Linked DNA regions of Homo sapiens: region 1 is linked to region 2. The links come from fine-mapping of genetic effects on gene expression. Tissue or cell type: monocytes. Region 2 holds a variant in brackets; the other region holds the start of a gene. All regions are shown on one strand. Distances are from middle to middle.

Region 1 (5,238 bases), 140 kb after region 2:
ACTTCATCTGCAGCTGTTTGCTCAAAGCCAGTAGGTACAGTGGCTCCAATAGTGACTAGAAGCTCAGATTCACTTCCGAGGTCACTTTCTGTCACTTGTACAGACTTCTGGTTCTCATGAAGGTTCACATCTAGGAGTTGGTTAGTGGCTTCTTCAATGTCACACATGTTGGCTGTGCTTCCAAGATCCCTAACACTGTCTCTTTAAAAGCAGTACTGTCCTTTAAAAGAAAAAGAAATAAAGCCCAAATATTATCATCTCATATTTCAGTTATAATTAAAAACATGGGCTCTGGAGGGCAGGAAGAACAAGGCAACACATCTGATAAACAGTCACCAAAGTAAAAAGGGTTGAATAAACATGGGCACAGAGTGCAGGCTGTAAAACATGATGTTATTATTAAAGAAGCAATACAGATACCATGGGAGAAAAAGAGACAAGAAGTATTTCCATAGCATGCAATGTTTGCTTTGGGGTAACCCATGTTGACAAAAGCCATTTCATAACTACGACAGAAACTGCAGATCACATTCAAATCCATTTCTGCATCTAGATGTTAAGAACATGGTTAGTTAAGAATATAGGGCTTGGCTGGGCGTGGTGGCTCACACCTGTAATCCCAGCACTTTGGGAGGCCGAGGCGGGCAGATTGCCTGAGGTCAGGAGTTCAAGACCAGCCTGGCCCACATGGTGAAACCCCGTCTCTACTAAAAATACAAACATTAGCCAGGTGTGGTGGTGGGAGCCTGTAATCCCAGCTACTTGGGAGGCTGAGGGAGGAGAATTGCTTGAATCCGGGAGGTGGAGATTGCAGTGAGCTGAGATCATGCCACTGCACTCCGGCTGGGGTAACAGAACAAGACTCTGTCTCAAAAAAATAAATAAATAAATAAAATAAATAATAATAATAATAATAATATGGGGCTTTTGGAGTTTCAGATAGATACAGGTTTGAATTCTTGCCTCCACCATCATAGGTTGAATGACTTATGGCAAATTAATTCTCCCAAACCTTCAAATGTAATTAAGTAATTAGTAATACCTCTTTCCTAGAGTCGTTAGGAGACAAGTGAGAGTAGTACCTGGTTAGGCCAATAATTAAAACTTATTAATAGGCTATCTATCTTCTTCCCTCCTGTGAAATAGCATTTCATGCATTTAAAAATGATTAACTGGGCTGGGCACACTGGCTCATGCCTGTAATCCCAGCACTTTAGGGAGCTGAGGTGAGTAGATTGCTTGAGGCCAAGAGTTCGAGACCAATCTGCGTAAGATGGCAAAATCTCATCTCTACCAAAAACACAAAAAATAGCTGGGCGTGGTGGTGGGCGCCTGGAGTCCAGCTACTTGGGAGGCTGAGGTGGGAGGACTGCACTCCAGCCTGGGTGACACAGTGAGGCCCTGTCTCAAAAAAAAAAAAAAAAAAAAAGAAAAAATTAAAAATAAAAATGGTTAACTGAATACTTACTATCTAATGATTACAAATGTTCAAACGCCTACTACTTGCCAGACTCTGGGATCCATAGATGGGCATCAGGAGAGAGATCTTGGAAGTAATCCGAAATAGTAAAACAAATTTCCTATGCATAAGCTTTTGTGTGTGCTTGGGGTGGGGGCCGGGGGAAGTATTAGAGAGGTGGAGGGGCCATAGCTTACACGAGATTTTCAAAAGGTCTGTGACTCAAAATAACTTAATTGAGTACAGAATACCTATAATGTCCTTGTGCTGTGCCAGCGATACACGACAGTGTTTAACACTACGTCAGTTCCCGCCGTTAAAAAGCTGACAGTCACTGTGAATACAATCTCCATCTTCTAAAAAATGCAGCTGAGGTCAGCTAAAGGACGCGTTCCGCACAAGGTCAGAGAGCCAATGAGAGGCGCAGAATGAAAGAGAACTCACGTCTCCCAACTCCCACCTACAGGGCCCGGGAATCCTAGGGAGCGGGTAAAGGCCTGGGAGAGGGAGCAAGATGGGCTCCGCCACGAGATCCGCCTGAAGTCCGGCTCGGCGCCGGCCTCAACTGCAAGAGGAAGGCCACCCCTCTCTCCCCAAGCTGAAACACCAGAAGAGCCACACTCGGCCGTTCCCAACCGCCGCCAGTTACCGGCCGCCAGCGAAGACCCTTTCAGCTCCCACACTCCATTGGCCTCTTGCGGTCAGGTCACGCCGCCGGAAGCCGCCCCCGGAAACGGAAGTCAGGCTACGAGTCACGGTGGCTCCGCGCTGGCGGCGGGTTCCCCCACAAGGTCTTGGGGAAAGGAGCATGCGCTGGAAGCTGTGTGCTGTTGGTTTTGAGGATCTTCAGTAAGCTGAAAGCGGAGAGTCAGGGGCCTTGTGTCCTACCATGGTATTTGCTAACGTTTAGAGAGTGCTTCCCCTTGCCGAGCACTGGGTAAGCGCTTCACATGCGTCATCTCATTTGGAACAAGTCTCTTTTGTTCTAGCACCTATGAAGTGGCAGAGACTGATTTCTGTTTTAAAGCTGGAGACACCGAGTCTCTCCAGCTTATTTAAATATCTTTCTCAAAATGTCATGCCACTAGTTCCTGATTTCTGTATTGCCATCACTATTTTAGCACTGTTTACTTCATATTTTTCTTTAGTTTAAAAAAAATAGAAATAGTGGGGCTCACTATGTTGCCTAAGCTGGTCTCGAACATCTGGGTTCAAGTGATTCTTCTGTCTAGCCCTCCTAAAGTGCTGGGATTACAGGCATGAGCCACTGTGCCCAATCAGATGAACTTTATTTCTCATAAAGGGTTGAACCTGGCCGGGCACAGTGGCTCATGCCTGTAATCCCAGCACTTTGGGAGGCTGAGGCGGGTGGATCACTTGAGGTCAGGAGTTTGAGGCCAGGCTGGCCAACATGGTGAAACTCCATCTCTACTAAAAATACAAAAGTTAGCTGGATGTGGTGGCCTGCACCTGTAGTCCTAGCTACTTGGGAAGATGAAGCAGAAGAGTTGCTTACCCAGGAGGCAGAGGTTGCAGAGAGCCAAGATTGTGCCACTGCACTCCAGTCTGGGAGCAAGACATCATCTCAAAAAAAAAAAAAAAAAAAAAAAAAAAGAGTTGAACCTGCATGGTAGCCATTTTGACAGACTGGGAAGCCTAGCTTCCAGTCAGAAGCCAAAAACAGGCACTTCCAGGGTTGGAAGAATAAGACAGGGATTTATGCTAAACACAGTGGCCAAATATACATGTTAAATAAACTGTAAGAGGGGTCACGAATATTTATGAAAGGAGCAATTTGTGCATGTGCAGTTGAGCTTCATGCCTCTCTGTGGATCCCATGTTTAAAAAATGGTGGCCTTAGCATGATCCAAGGGTAGAGTTTTCTACCGCTTGACTTCAAAAGGTGAAGCAGGGGATGTGAAAACCCTCACTGCACGTCCTCTGTCGACTGGCCAGAACCACTCCCTGGATGGTGGGTGATCTCTTATCAGGAAGGAATGCTAGTCGGTTGTTCTATTGAAACTGCAAATGGGAGGGTCAGCATCAGGCTGGTGGAGTGAGTCTTTCAAAAGGGCTGGTTTCTGTTTAACCCTTAGGAAAGAAAATCTAATGGCGATTATAGAGGGAGGGGTTATAAAGAGGTGTGTCCGACTTCCCATCCTGTCATGAGTAGGAACTCAGCTTCCAAGTTTTTTCTAGGGTCTCCTTGGCCAAGAGAGGGCCTGTTCAGTCAGTTGGGGGGCATAGAATTTTATTTTTATTTTTCAGTTGACAAAAGTTAACTTATTGTGAAAGGAACCCAACAACAAAAAGATAAACCGAATTTAAAACAAAACAAAACCAAAAAGAACACAATTTATAAATGTGCAAAGGGGCTGGGAGTGGTGGTTCATGCCTGTAGTCCCAGCGCTTTGGGAGGCTGAGGTGAGTGGCTCGCTTGAGCTCAGAGTTTGAGACTAGCTCTGGCAACATGGCAAAACTCTGTCGCTACAAAAAAATGACAAAAATTAGCTAGGCATGGTGACACTCACCTGTAGTCCCAGCTACTCGGGAGGCTGAGACAGGAGAATAGCTTGAGCTGGGGAGGTTGAGGCTGTAATGAGTTATGATCACATCACTGCACTTCAGCCCAGGTGACAGAGTGAGACCTTGTCTCAAAAATAAAATGAAAAATATGTAAAGGGCTTGAATAGATATTTCTCCAAAAGATGGACAAATGGCCAATAAGCACATGAAAAGATGCTGAACATCATTAGTCATTAGGGAATTGCAAATTAATCACAATGGGATACTCATCAAAATGACTAAAAGTAAAAAACAAAAAATCAACAGTTCCAAGTTCTAATGAGTATGTGGGGCAATGGAGCACTTATACATTGCTGATGAAAATACAAAATGATATATGCCCTGGTATGTTTTAGCTCTGTGACTCCACCTAAATTTCATCTTGAAGTATACTCCCATAATTCCCATATATTGTGGGAGGGACCCAGTGGGAGATGATTGAATCATGGGGGTGATTCCCTGCATACTGTTCTTGTGGTAGTGAATAAGTCTCACAAGATCTGATGGTTTGATAAGAGGTTTCCACTTCCGCTTCTCCCATTCTCTTTCTTGCTGCCGCCATGTAAGAAGTGCCTTTCACCTTCCACCATGATTGTGAGGCCTCCGTAGCCACATGGAACTGTAAATCCATTAAACCTCTTTCTTTTGCAAATTGCCCAGTCTTGGGTATGTCTCTATCAGCAGTGTGAAAATGGACTAATACACGTCCATTGGAAAACAATTTAGCCTTTCGTCAAAAAATTAAACATAGAACACATTACTCACCAATTCCACTACAGATGCTTTCTGACTTAGGATGGTTTGACTTACAATTTTTTGACTTTACAATGGGCTGATGGGTTATAATGCATTTTTAACTTACACTATTTTCTGCGTATGGTGGGTTTATTGGGATATAATCCCATTGTAAGTCAAGGAACATCTGTAATAGCTTTATACCCAAGAAGACTGAAAACAAGTGTTCAAACAAAAACTTGTACACAAACTGGGCATGCTGGCTCATGCCTGTAATTCTAGCAATTTGGGAGGCAGAGGCGGGAAGATTGCTTGAGCCCAAGAGTTTGAGACCAGCCTGGACAACATAGGGAGACCTGTCTCTACAAAAAATTTAGAAAGTAGCTGGGTGTGGTGGCACTCATCTGTGGTACCAGACACTGAAGAGGCTGACATGGGAGGATTGCTTGGGCCCAGGAGTTCGAGTCTGTAGTGAACTA
Region 2 (5,516 bases):
GCTCTGAGGGAAGACCCTGATCTCAGACTTACTTCTCACCGACTACCCTGCAAGCTCCAGGCTTTGAGGAGAGGAAAGCCTGGATGTGGCCTGGGGGAGAGGAGAGGCCCTCCAAACCTTGGGAGGGTCTAATTCTTGCTCCTCCCTCAATTTGACCTAAGGGAGCCTGCATCTGCGTAGGCCCTTGGGCTTCTCCTCTCCTCTCTAGACTGGCCTGGAGGTCCCTGCAGATCCCCAGGGAGAGCGGAGCTGTAGTTCCAGCTCCCCAGGCCCCCTCAGTCTGGAGGGCTGCCGCCTGGCTGTATCCGCACCTCTTCTGGTCCCTGCCTCTTCAAGAAATTTATTCTAGATACTGCTCCAGGGTGGGCTGGACTCTTTCCTACTTTTTTTTTTTTTCTTTTTTGGCTGATGTTGGTTCCACCACATCTGCCACAAAGCTCCAGGTGCCACCAGTCTCCCCTGGGACCTCCTCTGCTCCATTCCGGCCTGCTCCCAGCTCACCCTGAGGGAGAGCTGCACCGAGGGATGCACAGGGCCCTGCTGTCAGCTGCAGACCGGGGCCCTGATCAGCCCAGAGTCAGAAAAGACTTTCAGGCTCTGGAGGTAGCGGGAGGGGGTACGTGGCCTCGGCAGTTGGAGCTTAGAAGCTGCTCAGCCCGGGCTGGCCTGGCCTCCTCTTCCTCTCTGCTGGAACATCTCACTGATGACTGAGCCCTTGACCTTGGCCTCTTTTGCCCAGGCCTCCTCTCTGCTGGGATGTCTCACCAATGACTGGACCCTTGACCCTGGCCTGTTTTGTACAGCACAGACTTCTTGGCCCTGTTGTCAGGGTTGGGGGTGTGGAGGGGACCCCAGAGGTGGGGAGTTGGGGGATGCATTACCCCTTCTGCCCCTTTTCATGCCCTCCATACCCCAGGCGTCTACCAAGGGCAGAGACTGTCTTGTCTCTTTGATACTTTTCTGCATAACTTGAACTTGCAGGTCATCTCTGAACAGGGTACCCCTGTCCCCCTTCCTAAGCCTTGTTACCCTGTCCCAGCCTCTTCCTCCTCCTGGCCCACCTCTCGCCTTGCGATATGCCCAGGGTCTGCACCTATGGGCAGTGCTTGGAGCCGAGGCATGAGTGTATGTGTATGTGGGTGAAATGTGTGTGCGTGTGTGTGCGCGTGTGAGCGTGTGTGTGTGTGTGTGTGTTGGGGGACAGGTGAGAAGTTTCTCCCCCCTCCACCCACTGTGGGGGCGTCTCCCTTCCCCTTGGCAGGGAGCAGGTGAGGGAGACTCCTGGTATTTTTTGAACACCCGTCATTCCCCTGTGGGTCTGGCGGCAGAGCCATCTCTCCCGGGGAGCCTCCCTGCCCTGGGGCCTGGACAGCTCCCTCAGCACTAGTTGCTGGTGCAGACCGGCTTCGTCCAGCGCCCCCTCCTGGCGGCCTGGACCTGCAGGGAAGGGGCGGTGCCCTGCAGGATGCCAGGGGAAGCCGCCTCGGGCCTCGGCGGAGGGGAGAGGGTCGCTTGAGCGCCATGTGTTTGCCAACCTTGTGTTCATTTCCACAGGACTTGGACCTGAGAGTTAGGGTTTCCAAGAAAGACCCTAGAAGTCCCCTGCCTGTCTCCCCACTCTGGACCCTAGCCGGAATCAGATGTTGGGACCTAGTGGGTTCCTGCCACCTGGAACTTACCAAGTCCCGACTTCACTCCTCCACTTACTCCTCCCGGGCAAAGCCTCCCCGCAGTGCTCTGGTCCCAGCGCTGGGCTCCCCTTCCCCGCCGGCGCCTTCCCGGACAGTCCAGTCGGCCTGGGGTAGGGGCGCTGCGGGACAGAGGGTCCGAGTTAAATGCGGGAGGATGCGGGAGCCCCGTGGGAGGGAGTTGGGGTAGGAGGGAGTTCCTCAAAGATGCAAACCAAGCCCAGCGTTGGAGGGGGAGAGCAGAGTTAGGAGAGAGTGAGGGGAGGGGCGCAGCAAGCGACTGGGAATGGGAGAAGACACTGGGGTGAGGAGAAGAGGGGTGCAGAGACAGGGAGATGAGAGATGATTGGAGAAGGAGCGAGGGGGACG[C/G]ACAGGCACAGAGAAACAGCGCGAGGAGGAGAGATCGAGAGAGACGGGGCAGAGGTGGAGAGAGATGAGAGACCAGCTGAGAGGCTGCCCGAGAGCTTGGGGTGGGGGAGGGGAAATGGATGAAAAGGCGGAAAAAGGACTCGGGAGCGGGGAAGAGGTAAATGGAGATGTGGGTTGGGGGCAAGAATGGGATGCAGAGGAAGGAGAGGAGGATGAAGGAGCCAGGATGCGGGGCAGTGGGGAGGGGGTTGCTATCTGGGCACTGGGTGAGGGGAGAGCTTGTTCCCCCAAGGACGCCTGCCACCAGGTGTCCTTGCCACACCTTGTTCCCCAAGGACACCCACCAAACCTGTGCCCTGGTGCGGGGGATAGAACTGACCTTTCAGAGGCTGGAGGCCCGGGGCACAGGCAGCCAAGGCCGCATCCTTTTGGGAAGAACTGGAGTGAAGGAAGCCACTTCAGAGGACGTAGTGGGTCCAGCTGACTTAGGAGTGGGTCAGCGCCGGGTGGAGAGGAGGGAGGCTAGTTCCCTGGTGGGGTAGCCTGGCAACATTCCCATTCCACCGCACCTGGCCAGCTGCCATCTTGGCAGAGCCAGGGGGAGATGCACCAGGGAGTTTGGAGTCAGGAAGGCAGAGTTGTGTGGGCTGAAGTCTGCGGGAACCCCAGGGTGACACAGGCAAGGGGTAGAAGTCAGAGTGGGGACCAAACCATAGACTGGGGCCCTGGGTTCTGCAGAGGTGTGGATGGGGCAGGTGGCAGGTGCTCCAGTGGGGGCCCCAGGTGAGGCCCTGATGGCCCTCCTGGGGCAATAAAGACATCATGGGAAGGGGGCTTTGTGGTTTGCCTCTGCTCTCGTCGGGCGATCTGGCTTTAGCCTTCAGGAGGAGGTAAGCAGAGGAGATCAGTGCCTGTTTCTGACCCCAGGAGGGCCTTGTTGGGCTCCAACCTAGAGCCTTCCGGCTTCAGGTCCCAAGAGAAGTCCCCCCCTAACTGTGACCCCCCTAACTGTGATCAGGGGTCTGCCATTGCCCGCTTTTCTCTGCCTGATCTGGGGACTCAGGAGAGGCCACGGCAGCCACAGCCTAGGGGTGGTTCAGTCCCTGGCCCACAGTCTGGTCAGTTGAGTCCTTCTGGGAACCGGGGCTATGAAAACTTTCGTCTTTGGGGACCGGTACCCATGAAGGAAAACTTTCCTGAGGGGGTGAGGACCAAAGAATCAAGATCCTTTTCAGGCCTGATAGCCAAGATGATGAGAACTTTTAGATAAGGCTGTGGGGAGAGTCCCTGGCCTTTTGAGCATCCTGCTTGGGCACACGGGGAATAACCTTTCTCCAGCTTCCAGTGTGAACTGAGAAAGAGAAAGGGAAACCCTGTCTTTGGAGAAGCTGGGATGTTCCCAGCACCAGAAACTTCTGCAGGCCCCTGCCTGGCCCACGGCTAACCTTTGGGTGGGACTGGAGTTTCCTGAACAGGGAACAAGGGAGCCTTCCGCAGAGCTCTGATGGGCAGGCCTCCGAGGGCCTGTGCTGTGTGCTGTTAGGATAGCTTGGTGTTGTCTATACCCCATTAGTAAGTTTTGTCTGAGTGTGTCCTCGCTGTTCATTGTCTAATTTGGTAACATTTATTTTGGTCCTGACCCCTTCTGCTGCTGCTGGGTTTAAGCTTCAGTGCAGGTGGAATGACATTCAAATAAAGAAACACTTTCTATCACCCACGCTGGCTGCCACTTCTCTGAGTCACTGGGATCAAGAGGGGTAAGATTCCAACCCTATGGATCAGGTTTGTCTGGTATTAACAGAACCCTACTACTGTGGCTTAACAAGATAGTTTATTTTACCATCACATTAAAAAAAAAAAAAAAAAAAAAAAAAGCCTGGAGGTGGGTAGATCACGGCTGATATGGCTCTCAGTGTTATCCAGAACCCAGGCTCCTATCTTTCTGCACTGCCATTTTCAATCCTGGCTACATCCTCAAGAACACCTCATGGCCCAACGTGGGCTGCTGGAGCTCCAGTCACCTGGTCCACATTTCATTTGAAGACTTCTGGAAATTCCATAGGACTGTGTCACTTGGGCCACATAACAGTAAAGGAGGCTGAAAAAGTGTGGTCTGTTATCTCGGCGCATTGCCAGCCCAAATAAAACTGGGGTTCTTGGCCGGGCAAGGTGGCTCATGCCTGTAATCCCAGCATTTTCAGAGGCTGAGGTGGGTGGATCACCTGAGGTCAGGAGTTTGAGACCAGCCTGGTCAACATGGCAAAACCCTGTCTCTACTAAAAATACAAAAATTAGCCAGGCATGGTGGTGCGTGCCTGTAATCCCAGATACTCAGGAGGCTGAGGCAGGAGAATTGCTTGAACCCAGGAGGCGGAGGTCGCAGGGAGGTGGGATGGCGCCATTGCACTCCAGCCTGGGCAACAGAGCAAGACTCCGTCTCAAAAAAAAAAAAAAATAGGGTTCTGATACAAAGGAGAAAGGAGTGAATAGAGAGAGGGATACAGTAATCTCTGCACACCTCTGACAGCACAGGCACGACTTGTCCAAGTCCATACAGGCAGAAAAGAGTAGAGCCTCATCTGCTCTAGCCAGAGTGCTCAGTCCAGTCACTTTGCCTCTCTCTAAAGCCCCATTGAATAAATAGAGAAAACAATAGTGACTCCCCCAAGGGAAGCTGTAAGCAACATACCAGGGAATATATGCACTTTGCTCTGCAGGGTATCTGGCACGCTGTAATGTGCGCAGTACCAGGTAGCTACATTGAAGACTTGGAAATGGAGTCCTCTTCCAACACATTTTAAGCACTTAGTGTATGCTAAGCACTTAAGCTAGAAAAAAAATGAGCAAAACAGAGATGCTGTCTTAAGCATAATTCTGGTTGGGGAGATGAACATGTGAAAATAACGCATGACTTGCCACATGCAGGGTATTGTGGGTATCCTAGGCAGGAATACTTTAAATGGCTTTTGGTGACGTGGGCAGCGTAGGAGGAGGTCTTGCTGTAGGATGAGAAGTTAGGCAGGAGGGGTCAGGAAGGTCAAAGAGAAGGCAGCTTGAGGAAAAAGACTGAGGTAGGCAGCAGAACTGTGTATGGAGGACGAAAAGCAACTTAGTTTGAAATGTGAAGTACGAGGCAGGGAGGAGTCAGAGATGAGTCTAGAGAGACAGGCGAGGGCCAGACCATGAGAAAGCTTGGGGGCCATGGACAGGAGTTTGGACTTAAGAGCAATGGGGAACCACTGAAGGATTTGAAGCAGAAGGAAAAATGACTCAATTTGCATTTTAGAAAGAGCACTCTGGTGGTAGCATTAGGGGGCTGGATTAGGGGTAGACTGTTAGCCCATTTCTGCATTGTTATAAAGCCATACCTGAGACTGCATCATTTGTTTTATTTATTTATTTTGAGATGGAGTCTCCCTCTGTTGCCCAGGCTGCAGTGCAGTGGCACAATCTCAGCTC

Evidence for each region. PIP is the estimated chance that this variant, and not a neighbour inherited with it, causes the effect.
Region 1: THUMPD3 starts here. The variant in region 2 is fine-mapped to the expression of THUMPD3 in monocytes (CEDAR, PIP 0.91).

What each region holds. Positions count from the first base shown.
Region 1 is chr3:9,359,998-9,365,235 of GRCh38, reverse strand. It overlaps THUMPD3 (THUMP domain 3 tRNA guanosine methyltransferase), which reads right to left and starts at 2,182. Exons shown (of 10, transcript NM_001114092.2): 1 at 2,109-2,182; 2 at 1-220. The coding sequence starts at 167. It also overlaps a transcript of SRGAP3 not described here. RefSeq lists enhancers at 1,733-1,792, 1,813-1,892, 1,963-2,022, 2,243-2,452.
Region 2 is chr3:9,496,619-9,502,134 of GRCh38, reverse strand. LHFPL4 (LHFPL tetraspan subfamily member 4) reads left to right here. Exons shown (of 4, transcript NM_198560.3): 4 at 1-3,774. Among named protein-coding and RNA genes, the nearest start is that of LHFPL4, 54 kb to the left of the region's middle. RefSeq lists an enhancer at 84-809. The variant C/G (reference allele first, on the strand shown) is at 2,058.